2 separate regions of the Homo sapiens genome follow, and region 1 is linked to region 2. Evidence: fine-mapped expression QTL. A gene starts in region 2. The other region holds a variant in brackets. All regions are shown on one strand. Distances are between the middles of the regions. Region 1 has its middle 48 kb from the start of VIM-AS1. Region 2 holds the start of VIM-AS1 (VIM antisense RNA 1).

Evidence for each region. PIP is the estimated chance that this variant, and not a neighbour inherited with it, causes the effect.
Region 1: its variant is fine-mapped to the expression of VIM-AS1 in whole blood (TOPMed, PIP above 0.99).

The regions. Positions count from the first base shown.
Region 1 is chr10:17,274,130-17,282,464 of GRCh38, reverse strand. No RefSeq gene overlaps it. Among named protein-coding and RNA genes, the nearest start is that of VIM-AS1, 48 kb to the right of the region's middle. The variant A/G (reference allele first, on the strand shown) is at 3,980.
Region 2 is chr10:17,225,973-17,234,307 of GRCh38, reverse strand. VIM-AS1 (VIM antisense RNA 1) reads left to right here and starts at 4,323. Exons shown (of 3, transcript NR_108061.1): 1 at 4,323-4,963. It overlaps VIM (vimentin), which reads right to left and starts at 6,067. Exons shown (of 10, transcript NM_003380.5): 1 at 5,784-6,067; 2 at 4,323-5,032; 3 at 3,598-3,658; 4 at 626-721; 5 at 377-538. The coding sequence starts at 4,885. RefSeq lists silencers at 4,159-4,338, 7,374-7,588 and an enhancer at 4,649-4,738.

The sequences.
Region 1 (8,335 bases), 48 kb before region 2:
CATGAAGTTATCTGTTATGCCCTGGAGACATCTCCCCCATTGGCTTGGTGATTAACATTTGGCCCCTCGTTACTTATGCAAATTTCTGCAGCTGGCTTGAATTTCTCCCCAGAAAATAGATTTTTCTTTTCTCTTGTATTGTCAGGCTGCAAATTTTCCAAACTTTTATGTTCTGTCACCTCTTGAATGCTTTGCTGTTTAAGAATTTCTTCTGTCAGATACCCTAAGTCATCTCTGTCAAGTTCAAAGTTCCACAGATCTCTAGTGCAGGGGCAAAATGCTGCCAGTCTCTTTGCTAAAGCATAGCGAGGGTCACCTTTATTCCAGTTCCCAACAAGTTCCTCATCTTCATCTGAGACCACCTCAGCCTGGACTTCATTGTTCACATCACTATCAGCATTTTGGTCAAAACCATTTAACAAGTCTTTAGGAAGTTCCAAACTTTCCCACATCTTCCTTTCTTCTTCTGAGCCCTCCAAATTGTTCCAATCTCTGCCTGTTACCCCATTTCCAAAGTTATTCCACATTTTCAGGTAGCTTTCTAGCAGCACTCCACTTCCGGTACCAATTTACACTGCTATGAAGAAATGGGTAATTTATAAAGGAAAGAGGTTTAATCGATTCACAGTTTATTATGGCTGGGGAGGTCTCCGGAGACTTACAATCATGGCAGAAGGCAAAGGAGAAGCAGACACCTTCACAGGGCAGCAGGACGGAATGAGAACAAGCAGGGGAAATGCCAGATGCTGATAAAACCATCAGATCATATGAGACTCACTCATTATCACAAGAACAGCATGGGGGAAACCACCTCTATGATCCAATTACGTCCACTTGGTCCATCCTTGACACATGGGGATTACAATTCAAGATGAGATTTTGAGTGGGGATACAGCCTAACCATATGACTATCTGTCTTCCTATCCATATATCTATCATCCATCAAATCATCTATGATTTATCAGTCTTCCTCTCTATCTCCCTATCTATCATCTATTTATCTTCCTATGTATTTATCTATCTAAACATCTATCTATATCTATGTCTATCCTCTATCTTCCTATCTCTCTAACTATCTATTAAATCATCTATTTATCTCTCTGTTTATCAAATCATCTATTCTCTCTCTCTCTCTGCCATTGGTTCTGTTCCTTGGAGAACCCTGACTAATACAAACACACATTAATTAAAATTAAGACTCAAAAATATGTGAAACAGAGAGGCAAAACCATCTCTGATATCTTGTCACATGACACTATTTAATTTTGGAGACCTGCTTTTCATATATTTCTTTATATCCATACACATATAGAATGATGCATAGATATTGATATTGTTTGGCTCTTCATCCCCACCCAAATCTCATGTTGAATTGTAATCCCCACATGTCAGGGGAGGGGCCTGGTGGAGGTGATTGAATCATGGTGGCAGATTTCTCCCGTGCTGTTCTTGTGATAGTGAGGTGTTCTCACGAGATCTGATGGTTTAAAAGTGTGGCACTTCCCCCCTCAGTCTCTCTCTCTTCCTACCATGTAAGAAGTGCCTTTCTTCCCCTTCACCTTCCACCATGATTGTGTTTCCTGAGGCCTCCCCAGCAATATGGAACTGTGAGTCAGCTAAACCTCTTTTTTTATAAATTACCCAGTCTCAGAGAGTTTTTTTTACAGCAATGTGAAAATGGGCTAACAGAGATACCATACATATTTTTTAATCTTGGGTCTCTCTCTCTCTCTCTTTCCTTCCCAAACATTGGCATTACTACCATCTCTCTCCACCACCAGAAGAAGCAGGGTACCTTGTGTACCAAGCTACTGAGCATCCTTCTGGACCTTCCTTCATGCTTTTGTACAAGCATAAACACAGACACAATGTGATTTAACTTTTTTTTTTACTAAAATGAAATCATATTATGGAAATTCCTCCATATCTTAGCTTTCTCACTTAATAATACATTGAAAAATTCTTCTGATTTGATCTATTTAGATCTAACTCATTTTAAAATTTTATTTTATAAATTTATTTAAAGTTTTTTAAATTCTTAGTAGGGGTGGGATCTCACTATGTTGCCTGGGCTGCTCTTGAACTCCTGGCCTTAATTATCTTCCTGCCTCAACCTCCCAAAGTGCTGGGATTACAGGCATGAGCCACCATGCCTGGCCATAACTCATTTTTAATAGCTGAACAATTGTACATGGTATGGAGGTATTAATATGTTTTCAGCCATTTTCCTATTGATTGGCATTTTCTTTTCTAAAAATCTCTACAATATTGCTGTAAAATCTCCCTGATCATATATTCCTATAGATTGTTGTGTTTATTTTATTTCCATGGGATGGATCCCTAGAACTTGCTAAAACAAATTACATACACACACACACACACACAACTTGAATTTTAATGGATATTATTGGATTGTTTCTCAATAGGTTGTGACAATTCATACTTCCACCACCAAATATAAGAGAATCTTTTTTTCCTGTGGGCCTCCAGCCATAAGCATCTGTAATTCCCCCTTGTAATTGCCAATATTATGGGGCACAATGATGTCTATTGTTTTAATGTGCATTTCCTTGCCTACCAGGGCAATTAACATATTTTTGCCCTAGTAGTTGTTGCAGATACTATCAGCGTTCTGTCAGGTCCTCTCACTCTTACCTTTTCTGTGAATGCCTGCTGGACTTCCAGCTGCCAACACCTGCATCTCCTTGCTAGAGGGCTTTCCTCAGCTGTGACAATATCTTATACTGCTGTCTTTCTTAATTGTAGATCTTCCATTATCTTGTCCATCCCTTCTATGGTAATTTGTTTATTCATGGTTGTTCCTTCCTCTGGGATCAATAGTGGCAGCTTATATTTTGCTAAAAAAATACACATTTCCTCCAGGTTTTGACCTTTATTTCTACGCATTGTCCTAGGATATTCTTAAAACTATTTTAATGCCTTCCTTATCTACGGTCATGTTTTCTTTCTCATTCCTAAGCTTGTATATTTCTGTCCTCTTTAATTCTTGATTAAACTCATGAAAGTTTGTCTATTTTATTGGTCCTTTGGAAGAACTGGCTTTGGGATATATTTAACCTATTATTACATTTTATTTTTTTGTTATCTTAATTCCTTCTTGTGCTACTTTTTGTTTTTTTATTTCTAATTTCTTAAACCAAGCATTGAATTTTTAAAAAAATTTATTGTTTCTTCTATAATCGTGGAGACATTTGTGCAGAAGGTGCTAACTGCAGGTCTGGCTGCTAAACTCCACATGTTCCCAAAAAAGGCCTGCCTTTACGATCAGCCCTAGCTGGCTCCTGGGAGCTGAGCTCTGAGATGTTGAAATATTCTGCAGGATCAGAGAGTTTTGCATGACTGAGGCCTGGGGCTACCTGGTACTAGTTTAGTCAGATTGTTTATGCTAACAATGTGATTTATGGTGATGCTTATTTTTGCTATTTTTGCTCTGAGAGGCTGAGGGCAATCATGCATGTACTACGTCTATGTTACTGACTCTGCCAATAAAAACCGTGGACACCAAGCCTCAGGTGAGTTTCCCTGGCTGGCAATATTTTGCATGTATAGTCACACATTCTTGCTGGGAGAATTAAATGCACCTGTGTTTCTCTACTGGGAGAGGACATCTGGAAGTTGGCACTTGGTTTCTCCTGGACTTTGCTCCATGACCCTTGGCATTTTGCTGATTTTAATCTGCATCTTTCCCTGCAATAAAGTGTAATTGTGAGCACAACGGCTTTTATGACTCCTCTGAGTCCTACTAGTATATTGACAAGCCTGAGGGTGGTCTTGGGGACCCCCAACACAGCTTTCAAGGTTGTAATCTCCCAATGAGTATAGTTGTCATTGTGTACCAGATGCTTTTATTATTATTATTATTTGAGATAAATTCCTTCCTCTGTTGCCCAGGCTAGAGTACAGTGGCGTGGTCTTGGCTCACTGCAGCCTCCACCTCCTGGGTTCAAGCGATTCTCCT[A/G]CCTCAGCCTCCCAAGTAGCTGAGATTACAGGTGCGCACCATCACACCCAGCTAATTTTTGTATTTTTAGTGGAGATGGGTTTTCACCATGTTGGCCAGGCTGGTCTCAAACTCCTGACCTCAAGTGATCTGCCTGCCTCGACCTCCCAAAGTGCTGGGATTACAGGCAGGAGCCACCATGCCCGGCCTGTGTGCCAGAGGTTTTAGAATGTAGTGGCCTTCCTTTCACTGGTCTACCTATAGTTGATGATTTTATTTTGACTTTTCTCTTCTATCAAAGATTTAAGTAGAAGTGGATTTATTATTTTCTGAGTAATAGAGGCATAGTTTTATTTTTTGCTTAACTGTATCAGATTATGATCAAGGAATGTGGTCTCTTAAAATTTCTTCTTTTGAAAATGTGTTAGTTTTTTTCTTTGTTTGAACAATTAGCTTCATAATTAAATACTGTTTCTTGACTATTACATGAAAGCAAGATAGAATTCCTATATACTTCAGATACTCTATTTCCCTATTGCTTTTATTCATACACCAGAAAGAAGATAAATTTAGACTACTTTTAATTTTACTTAACTCACTCCCATCCCCTCAAGGCCTAGCTTTTCCTAAATTTATAACTTTTAGTACAAGGCTGTTGTTAGTATTTCACTCACAGTGCATGGAAGAAAGAGGCTTTGTACTCTATATGGATCAGATCTGTCAGAGGCAGCTTAAATCACTTCTATACTGTTGGGAATAGAACTGGTAAGGGAAGAAAAAGCTCTCTAAAAAATAGGAGAACAGGCACAGTGTGGTGGATTCATTATCACAAGGCCAGAAAGTTCACATCCTGAGTGGTAGGTTACTTATCACAAAACTGATGAGTTAATTTACAGCTGAAGTGAAGAAAATCAATTTCCCATAACAAACGTTTTCAAGCTTTGTGGTTAAACCATTATATTTACAGGCCTTGTTGTCAAACACTTACATTCCTCAGGAATTCCTGTTGTTGTTTTTTTCTTATAACTATCAGTAAATTTAGGGACAGTACCTCTAACTGAGCTAGCACACGGTTTGTTCTCCCAGACCATGAATGCTTTTAGTTTCTAGCACTGTTTGTTTGTTTAGAGTGCTCTCGTGGCCACCAGGAAATAAATATTCTTTATCTTTTTTTTGTTATCTTGCTAATGTCAGAAGTAAGAGCTCAGGGTCACAAAGAAAATGAGCAGTAAAACAAAGAATTTCTCAGCAAGGTAAATTTACTTCCGCAGAAGGGTGCTGCTCATAAACCTGGCTGTCACGAGAGCATGCGGAGCAAAGAAGAGTGGGGGTTTTCTTCCTAATGCAGATTCTGCCTCTGTGTCTTTCCCCCCATTGCCTGGGCTTGGACCGCACAATGTAAACTGGTCTCAATTGGGTAAACATTTAAACTTTCTTAGTTAAGGTAGGTGTGTGATAGAGGAGAGAGGGGGAGAAGGAAGGGGTCACCTACAGGGCACTAGAAAGCTAACCTATTCCCACATAAGGAAAGGAATGTGGACTGGGGCTGTGGCATGTCTAAGTATGTTTAGACAGGTTAAGGCGCAGCAAAAGCGGGGGCAGGGGGTGGGTACTTGGAATGAGAGAATAACGAACAGGAGAACTGGGCATGCTGTTTGCAGAGGAACCTAGCCGTATCTAACACTAAGAAAGGCAGTATTAGCACAGCCCTTAAGGACTTAAGTCACCAAATCTAGTTTCCTCACAAGGCTTCTCATCAAATAAAATGGCAAATTAGATTTCTATCACTAAGATCAGCCAAAAAAATTAAATGCATAATTTCTAATTTTTATATTCTACCATTCTCTGTTTAGGCTTAACAATGTATACATTTTTTGAAATGTTCTTTATTGGCCACTATTTAATCTTCTTTTCCCCTTTCTCTGTCCTCTGATATCTGAGATATTTTGTTGTTTGGCTAAAAGTTTTTTTCTTGAATATTCTCCTGGGATGTTCACAGATTATATAGTTTTGGAATTCTGGCATATTTATAAATGTCTTTGTTTTCCTTGATGGCTGAATGATATCTTAGATGGAAACACATTTCCTGGATTTTAGTCTGTGGGTGTCCAAACTCTTCCATGTTCATTCCACAGATAAATGTAATGCTAATCTTATATGTGTATGTATACATTACTAAATTTTATGTCTAGAATGTAAAAATTTATTCTTCATTTTGGAATTCAGCAATTTTGATGAAATGCATAGAGACGCCCCAGAACTCTCAATTATTGAATTTTAGACTCAGTTGAGGTAATAGGCAGAATAGTGGTCTTCCAAAGATGTCTAATCCCAAGAATTTGTGAATATGTTCTATTACAAGGGGGAATTAAGATTGTGGATGGAATTAAGGTTGCTAATCAGATGACCTTGAGATGGGGAGGTTATCCTCGATTATCTAGGTGTGGGAGGCAGGAGGGTCAGAGTCCTGTAGAGATTTGAAGAGGCTCCTTTGCTGGCTTTGAACATGGAGGAAGAGGCCATGAGCCAAGGAATGTAGGTGGCCTGGAAAAGGTAAGGACATGGAGTTTTTCCCTAAAGCCTCTTCAAAAAACACAACCCCACCAACAATTTTCTTTTAGTCCAGTGAGACCTATTTTGAACTTCTGACCTCCAGAACTGTAAGATAATAGATTCGTGCTGTTTTTAAGCTGCTAAATGCATGGTCATTTGTAACAGCAGTAATAGAAATCTCATACAGTTGATCTGGCATCAAGAGGGAAACAAATCCTGCCTAAGCTACTTCCTGTGGGCCTGGGTAGAGGCTTTGCTGACATCCTCCAGGTCTGCTAACCGCTTGCAGGTGCCAAACTGCAGAGAAACAGCTGGAAATTGGAGTCCAGAGAAAAGGACAGGAGGAAAGCACTCTGGAGTCCTCTCTGCAAAATCCTCATTACTTAAGCTTTTCAACCTTCTCTCCTGCCGTTCCCTAGCACCGTATCTTCATGTTAGCCCTGAGCTTCATTTCTCTAGTAAAACCAGGCTACGTACTGTTTTTCCATGCCATTTGTTTGAGTTGAAATATTCTATTGTGTAACAAATGTAGAGGTTGCAGGCAAGAGAGAGGGAAAAAAAAAAACACCTAGATCTGAAAAACAAACAAAACCATTGTCAGGTATTGCTCTTGTTGTCTGGGAGATAAAACCAGAGTTATGGGTCACAGAGATTTTGACATTCCCTGAACTGTGTAGGGTAAGAGAGCCTCTAACTACAGTAAGCAAATAAATTAGTGAGAATAATTAGCATGACTTACAGTAAGACCAGGGTTAGGCTAAAGAAAATAACTGACAAAATAGAGTTAAAGCCATGCCTGAGACTTTCAGTGAGGGAATTAAAAAGCAACAGATCTAATTAAGTAGTCTGGTACACCATTTGGAATTTGGAATTTGCTTGTTAATTAGAAGCCTTGCTCTATTTGGCAATAATTATTGCTGAGTGGAAAACGTATACATGCAGCAGTACTCTTTTTAATGAGGCAATGCACTCTCAAACACACTTCTCTGTCAAAAGTACATATTACCGCAGGCAAAAATAAGATAAAAGGCACAGGAATGTTTCCAGATATCAGACAGCAGTTTAAGAAATGTAAGTAAAATAACATCAAATGTTCAAGGAAAAATAAGCTACCTCGGATTTTGTTTGGAGGGGAGAGGATGGTGAATTGCAGAGGAGAGAAACCCACCAAGGATGGGCTAACACTGGATGATGAAGGGAGATGAGGGTTCTGTCTGAGTCCAAGAGTGGGCGAGAGGTGGTAAGAACAGGGTTGGGGAACTACACAGCCCCTGAGCCCAATCAGCCTGCTCATCATCGCAAATAAAGTTTTATTGGAACATAACTAGCACCCATTGGTTGAGTCATCATCATCTACAGCTGCTTTTGTATTACGGCAGCAGGGCTGAATAGTTGCGGCAAAGACCATATGGCCCCCAAGGTTGAAAATATTTACAGCCTCACCCTTTACAAAAGTAGTTTGCTGAGCCTTGGTTAGAGGAAGGTCTCTGGTCATAGCTCTCCATAGAAGCACTGAGATTAGTTGTGAGGTACATTGGGATTCAGTGGTAACTAATAATAATTTGATGGCCCAAGTTGACAAATGATTCACTTTTTAAAAATTAAAATAGAGCGGATGCAAAGTTATCCCCATGAAGAACTCTCGTATACTTTCCTTGGGAAAGAAAGAGATAATAGGCCAGGTGCGGTGGCTCATGCCTGTAATCCCAGCATTTTGGGAGTCCAAGGCAGGTGGATTGCTTGAGACTGGAGCTCAAGACCAACTAGATAACATAGTAGGACCTCCCCCCATCGCTACAAAAAATGTAAAAATGAGCTGGGCAA
Region 2 (8,335 bases):
CCCCATCTCTACTAAAAATACAAAAATTAGCCGGGCATGGTGGTGCTTGCCTGTGGTTCCAGCTCTTAGGGGGCTGAGGCAGGAGAATCACTTGAACCTGGGAGGCGGAGGTTGCAGTGTGCCAAGATGTTGCCACTGCACTCCAGCCTGGGCAGTAGAGCAAGACTCTGTCTCATAAATAAATAAGAAAATAAATAAATAAATAAAGGAGGTGATGTGAGTGGTGGGGAGGCTGTGGTGGCAAACACAATATGAGCAAGAAGTCAAAGCCAGCTTTGCATTGGAGCTAGAGGATATTTAGGAATCACACACAGGTATGGGGTTTTGAGAACACAATGCTTTTCTTTGGTTGAAGCCGCACTGATTTGTTTCCTACCTTGGATTTGTACCATTCTTCTGCCTCCTGCAGGTTCTTGGCAGCCACACTTTCATATTGCTGACGTACGTCACGCAGGGCAGCCGTGAGGTCAGGCTTGGAAACATCCACATCGATTTGGACATGCTGTTCCTGAATCTGAGCCTGCAGCTCCTGGATTTCCTGCAAAAAGAACAGACAGACGGTCAGCTCTGCCAACCGTGGGGGCTGCCTTACCCTCATTCATTCCCCGAAAGTCACTCCACTAACCTCTTCGTGGAGTTTCTTCAAAAAGGCAATCTCTTCTTGCAAAGATTCCACTTTGCGTTCAAGGTCAAGACGTGCCAGAGACGCATTGTCAACATCCTATTTTGAACAGAGAAAAGACAGGACATGGAGGATGTAAAAGTGTATGGCTTATCTCATTTATTTGTCTTAGATTAACCATCTGAACCTAGTCTCCTTACTATAGAAAAGCCGTTGACACATTTTATGACCCTGGAATAGGTTTATAAATCATTCAGTGCTATAATATGCTGTGCTTTCTCCTGCTCACTAATATATTTTAATTGTGACTGCTTGTGTTTTACTCAAGGTGGTGATCAGACAATTTTAAAATAAATAAATGTCCACACACATGGTAAACTGCACTCAATCATGACTGAATCCACATTTTACCAGTGATATTTTAAAATTACTTTTTAAGGCTGGTCATGGTGGCTTATGCCTGTAATCCCAGCACTTTGGGAGGCTGAGACGGGTGGATCACTTGAGGTCAGGAGTTCGAGACCAGCCTAGCCAACATGGCGAAACCCCGTCTCTACCAAAAATACAAAAATTAGCTGGGTGTGGTGGCACATGCCTGTAGTCCCAGCTACTTGGGAGGTTGAGGCAGGAGAATTTCTTCAACCCAGGAGGCAGAGGTTGCAGTGAGCCAACATAGTGCCACTGCACTCCAGCCTGGGCAACAGAGTGACACTCTGTCTCAAAAAATAAAGTAATTCATTTAATTTAATTACTTTTTAAATCTAGAAAATCTATGCCACAACATTTTTAAGATTTGTTTTGTAATTTCATGGAATAACATGATGATAGAGGTGGACAAATTTTCACAACTTCATGTACACTTGAGTACATGGAGAACAGAAACTTGTGCTTCAAGAGTTTTAGCTTTTCTTCTCCACTCAAATCTTTTGAAACTTATCCTTAGGCTCCAAAGCAAATATGTAGTCATCTGGCATCCATTGTACAAGGCTAGATTTATATTCAATAACCCAATTCAGGATATGCATGCCAAAGATTCAGTTCAGGAAAAAATGGAAAAGAAATGTAACTCTGAACTGTATTTGCTTGGCTTTCTCTGGTGGATTTTTCTTCTAAAACTCCTTTGACTCATCCTGTAAAGGCATGTCTTTTTCACTTGCCACTGTATCAGTTCAGTTAGCCTGTTTCAGAATGACTGGTCAAGCTTGCAAAGAATGAAACTACATAAAGGATTTTTGCTGATTCAGCCGTCCTTCTATATTTCCATTTAAAAAGCTCAGCATTCCAAATCAGAATATGTAATCTTGCAACTAAGATTTTATTTCCTCTCAAAAGGATGCGTGAGGATTGCTTATCTTGTCAGCAATTATATTTGGAGTTCATAGCCTTACGGTCTTAAACTGTTGAGACTTTTCTATCACCTTAGTGGAAAAATGAATGAAGAGTGGGTGACAAAAAGATCAGACTTGATGAAAACATTGATTTTTACTTGTTAAGCCCTGAAAAATACATAAAAGATATTTTACTAACCTCCAAAGAAAGATCAATGTGGTATTCTATCACATTGAAGAGAATGAGGAATTTTGCTTAATCTCGAAACAGAGGATCTTTTGTATTGATGTTGTTTTATGTTAACTCACTACACTGCAGAAAACATGACAGGTATGATAATCAAAAATGCTCAAGGACTAAAATGAACCACACACATTGCTGTGGTTAAATTAATTTGGTAAATGTATTTCAGTTTCAAAATGTTATACTACACTATTCATCTGAGAGTGCTTTGCAGTTAATCCCAGTAAATATTCCAGGGAATACAACTATAAACTATAATGGGGATCTTCTGGCTTTTGGATTCCAATTTTAAGTTAAAAATTCTGTAAGTCCATCTAATTTTGGTGAAAAAAAAAAAAAACACGCACAAAAACCCTTTAGTTAAAATTCAGTTTTTCAGCCTTGGGTTTATTACTGTTATTATTTTTTATGGCAAGAGTGCTAAAGAACACAAGAACCCAATCAAGAAAGGACTTTTAAAATGTGAGGTATGCTTGTAGCTTTAAAAACTTTTTACATTACCTACTTCTCAAGTCTGGGCCAGATATTAGATAACGGATGTTAGCAAATACTTGTGTCCAATTAGAACCGTGCTTACATCATTACATATTCAGTAAGAATGTAGCCTGTTGCAAAGCTTCCCTGGGAATACAAAGACTCCTATTATTTCTGTCCAGAGCCACCACATTTGCCAGAATGTCTGTATCTACATTCCATAGTGAAGCCCATAGAAACCATTAATACCCCTTAGCCAAGGGGACAGATGGCTCCTTTTCACCCTTATTAGATCACAAAATAGTTGTGCATAGTGATACTTCCATCGAACTTTAATGACACAATAGAATTTGCAAAGAAGAAAAGAAACTTGCTGGCTCCATTCCAGTTGGAAACTAAGTTTTCTTATCTTCCAACACGTTTTCCATTTTAAACTGCAGGGCATAATTGCGCTTTTTGTGGCCTTGTAAAAATTAAGCAACTTGACTTTGGCAAACCACAATCTAAAATTGTAACCGTTCGAAACCAGAAGGTCAATGTGTTGCAAAACTGTGCAACATTTGGGAAACAAAGTAAAAAGTTAAAAGATTTTTCTTTATGTCCCAAGGAACTGCTTAGAAATCATTCAAGGATCGCTTGAACCCGGGAGGCGGAGGATGCAGTGAGCCAAGATCTCGCCACTGCACTCCAGCCTGGGCGACAGAGTAAGACTCCGTCTCAAAAAAAAAAAAAAAATCGCTCAAGGGGTTTTATTAATATTTTTCTAATCATGAGAAGCTCCAACCTGTGGTCTTCCCGCCACTAGAGGGCTTTACGCGCAGCCCTGAAGTTTTGCACTTTTTAGACGTGAGTTAAGCAACTTTTAGAATTGCTCGTGGGTTGTGTTGGGTGGGGTCAGGCGGCTGCGAGTGGGAAGAGAGTCTACAAACCTGTCTGAAAGATTGCAGGGTGTTTTCGGCTTCCTCTCTCTGAAGCATCTCCTCCTGCAATCTGAAACAGTTGCGCATTAACCAAAGGGGAACGAGGAAACCGCCAGGGGCGGGGCGGCCACACCCAAACACCACGTATTCGCTCTGCGCCTCCAGAGCAGCTGCGCCACCTCCGCGCAACTAGCGCCTGCAGCTTTCAGACCTGCTGCCCTCGGCAGGTTTCAGCGGGACTTCGGGCACCGCGCAGAGGGGCAATCACGGTGGCCGCACAGACCTACAGGACAGCCCCGCCATCCCCGCCCCCGAGGGACCATCCCTTTGTCTCGCTCCCTCCACCGCCTTCCCCTCCTTCCTTCTCCCGCCCGGTGATTGGCAGCCTGCCAGAAGGGGCAGGAAACTTTCTGAAAGTTTGGAGGACTGGCTCTCATTGTGCCCAAGGGCCTTCAACTGCACACAAAGTGGTAGTTTTAAGAAATCTGTAACTTGAAACGGAGCGTCCTTGGGCAATGTGTGGGGACAGAGGAGGAAATGCGAACTGCAAGGTCTGGGTTCTGGGCGGGGCTGCGCCACCACAGCCACAGCCCCGCTCTCCGCTGTCTCCCTGGCAGGCCTCCCCCCGGCCACATCCCCAAGGGCGTGGCAGCTCTCGCGGGGGCCGGGGGGGCGTTCCCCTCTCCCTCCAGCCCCCTCCCGAGGCCCAGCTACTTGCATGGGCGCAGCCTTACTTCTCCCGGAGGCGCATGATGTCCTCGGCCAGGTTGTCGCGCTCCACCTCGACGCGGGCTTTGTCGTTGGTTAGCTGGTCCACCTGCCGGCGCAGCTCCCGCATCTCCTCCTCGTAGAGGTCCCCCAGGCGCGACTTGCCTTGGCCCTTGAGCTGCTCGAGCTCGGCCAGCAGGATCTTATTCTGCTGCTCCAGGAAGCGCACCTTGTCGATGTAGTTGGCGAAGCGGTCATTCAGCTCCTGCAGCTCCACCTTCTCGTTGGTGCGGGTGTTCTTGAACTCGGTGTTGATGGCGTCGGCCAGCGAGAAGTCCACCGAGTCCTGCAGGAGCCGCACCCCGGGCACGCTGCTCCGCAGGCGCACGGCAGAGGAGCGCGTGGCATACACGCCGCCCGGGGACGAGGCGTAGAGGCTGCGGCTGGTGCTGGGGCGCAGCGCGCTGCCCAGGCTGTAGGTGCGGGTGGACGTAGTCACGTAGCTCCGGCTGGAGCTCGGCCGGCTCGCGGTGCCCGGGCCGCCGAACATCCTGCGGTAGGAGGACGAGGACACGGACCTGGTGGACATGGCTGCGGAGGGTGGCGATGGCCTGGGCGGCGGCGGTGGCGCGGACTGGCTCCCGGAGAAGAGGCGAACGAGGGCGCGGTGGGTGTGGGTGGTGGGAGCGCGGCTGCGTCTCTGGCGCGGGGACCTCGGAGCGAGAGTGGCAGAGGACTGGACCCCGCCGAGGGCGCTGTTTTTATAACCCCGTTAGGAAAGAGGGTCCCCTCCCACTGCCATCCCAGCCGCGGAGCGCGCCAGCCAATAGGGACCTAGCGAGAAGCGGGGAGGGTGGGCGGGTGGGGTGGGGGCGCCCTCGAGCCTTCCTGCTCCGGGGCCTGGGACTGGGCATGGTCCCGTTACTTCAGCGCTGGGCTGGGACTTTTGGGGGCTTTCCGGATGATAGTCTGAGCTGGGCTCACCCTGGGGTGCTGAAAAAGGCGGGGTCGCGCGGTGAGGGGGGGGTCCGCCTGGGACTGAACCAGAGGGGTCCGGTGGCACCACGCCAAAGGGGCGTGGGAGGAGGTGCGCGGCGGTCTCGGGGCTGCGGTCAGGCGGGGAGACCCGCGGGCAAAGGAGCGGGAAGAGGAAAGAGTAAGGAATCCCTCAGATCTGAAGTCGCGGAGAAAGAAACAAAGAGCGCCTGAGATTGGAACGCGGGGTGGGGGCGCGCACAGCGCAGGAACGCAGGGCTCAGGCCTCGCCGCAGCCTCGCGCGCCGCCCGCTTGGAAAGGGGGGCTGCTCCGGCCCGCGCCTCTGTCCATCGACTTGCCTTGGCGGAGAGATGTTGGGGGGAGGGGAGGTTCTGTCGAGGGACCTAACGGGCTCAGTCCAGCTTCGGACGGCGGGAGTTGCGAGACGGCGGTGGCAGAGGAAAGCCCGAGGGAGAGGGGTGGGGTCGCTTAGTCACCGGCGGTGACTCACCGCGCCCTGCTGTCCCGCCGATTGAGGGCTCCTAGCGGTTTAGGGGAAACCGTTAGACCAGATTGATTCAAGTCTCAGCGGGCTCCGCGCGCGCTGCTAGTTCTCAGTGCTACCAACTTACAGCTGGGCCATCGCCTTGCTGTGTGCGGTCGGGCCCTGTGGGGGACAAGAGCGCCCCTAAGTTTTTAATAACTCGCTAAAGCCTGTCTTTGCTCGAATGTGCGGACTTTTTGTTAGCAAGAAACTTCTGCAGCCTTTGGAGAGGCGCCATACGTGGGCCTCCCAGATCACGATTGCACCGGGAAGGTTTTTCTTGCAGAGTCCCCGCCCCCGTCCCTCTGGTCTCCTCTCGCTCTTCCCCCTCCCCCCATGAAACCACACCCAACTTTTTAAACAAGATCTGAAAATTCTGGGTGAAAGAGGAAACTCGACGTCCGTAGTTTCAAAATAGAACTCAGTGATCAGTGGTTTTTACCCTGGTGGAAGTCATTAAAGGTATAATATGAGCCAGTTAAAGAATTAATTAGGTGTTGCTTAAAAACCCCAATTTGATTAATGAGTTCAAATGAAAGGCAATTATGTAACACAAATGACAGAATCTTTGGCGGCAATAGATTTATGTGTTAATTTTAGGACAGCAATGCACAGTACAGGGTTCACGGTGATTTGTCTGGGAAATGCCATAGGTCCTGTTTTCCAAAAGAATTCGTGCAATTGACCTTGGGGTGAGGGGGATAAAACTGTCTACGCAGCAAAAAACTTCGTGTCCAAGACATGGAGGGAGTGTTCAGATTCGGTCACCTTAACCTTTCTAGGGAAATCACTCAATTCAAGGGCTGTTGTTTCAATATTAGTAACGAGCAGAGCTGAGTACTTACCCGCCAAGGGAGATAAAAGGAGACTATGTAAATCAGTCTTCTCGTGATTTAGTAGCAATTGAAAAGGCACAGGTTTTTTTGAGTATTTAGATTTATGGTGTACTGAAAGGATTAACTGCAGAACCACTGTAAAATTGATTCTGCAGTGGATAGGAGAAAAAAAAGTATTTCTCTCTTTTTTTTTGGTGGCGGCAGGGGGTACTGCAGGTTACTTGGTATTTAAGAAACATAATTTAGAGGTAAATGAAGAGCGTATTCTGACTTCTTTGGACAAGCCTCTTTTAGGCAATATTTTGTTTACCTTATCCCAGTTCGTTCTTGCAAATGGTGCTTGCCAAGGTGGAATTACAGGACTCTCTACTGCCCAGCTCGCCTGCTGGGGCTTTCTTTTATTCTCTCTTTCACTGGGAGGCTGCAGGTCATTCCCCAAGAGCATTCCTGGGGCTGGGTGCCCTGGAGGACAAGCCTATGCTCTGAGTTACATCTTGCTTTCTGAGAGCCCTTTATTCAAGCCACTGCTCAGCAAATGCCACCATTGTGAGTGTGCCTGGAACCCTTAGAATGAGAAAAGTGATCTCCCTATGGGAGGAAGAGAGTGTGGAACTCACTTCTACGTGCAGTGCCGATCCCAGGGCAATGCGACGCTTGCTGACTGACTCACTATGGAAAAGGAGGACAAGGCATTGGCGAGGTGTGGCACTGTGCCCTGCTGGTGCCCATAGCCGATTCCTCAGGGCTGCGGTGATGTCTCCTGGAATGGGCACTGGTCCTCTTCATCATCTCAGGGATAGGTAGCTCCTCCTTCCAACCTGTCCCCATTCTGAAGTCTCTGGGCTGTGATAGGCTGCTCTCTTGTCACAGACATATGTTTGTTTGATGCATATAGAATGTATAAAAGTGTAGGTGTTCTGTAGTCCCAGCACTTTGGGAGGCCAAAGCAGGAGGATTGCTTGAGATCAGGAGTTTGAGACCAGCTTAGGCAACATATATATATGAAACCAAAAAAAGCCAGGCGTGATGGTGCACACCTGTGGTCCCAGCTACTTGGGAGACTAAGGCAGGGGGATTGCTTGAGCCTGGGAAATTGAGGCTGCAGTAGGCTGTGCACACCACTGCACTCCACCCTGTGCAACAGAGTGAGAACCTGTCTCAAAATAAAGTATATGTATGTACTACACACACATATACATACGCACATATACAGCGTTCAATGTGTTTTTCCTATTAGAAAATGCCATTGTTTTTGGTGGGCTGCAAGAGAAGTGAAAGTTGCAGAAACACTTTCATTCATTCATGTAGAATTCATGAGACTTAAGAATTCATTTCATTCTGAGATAAGATATACAGTGCCTCAATCAATGGGTGATAGTTTTCAGTCAGGGAGATCAATGAATCTGAACTCACATCCTTGAGTGAGACAACTCAGCCTGCTCTCTATGCTACTGTGTTCTTAGGTATCTTTTGGGTACACAGACATAGCTTTCCCGGGTTTTGTGTTTATTTTTTAATTGCTATGAAAACCTATCTGAGAAGTATTTTCAAGTGCTGGACTGGGAAGCTGCTTTCAACACAGCATGATGCAAGTTGCATATAAATAAAGACGTGGTGGTATAATTCATAGGCCAGGCATAAACACTACCACATCTAAATTACCAACAGTGATTTTGGAATTTG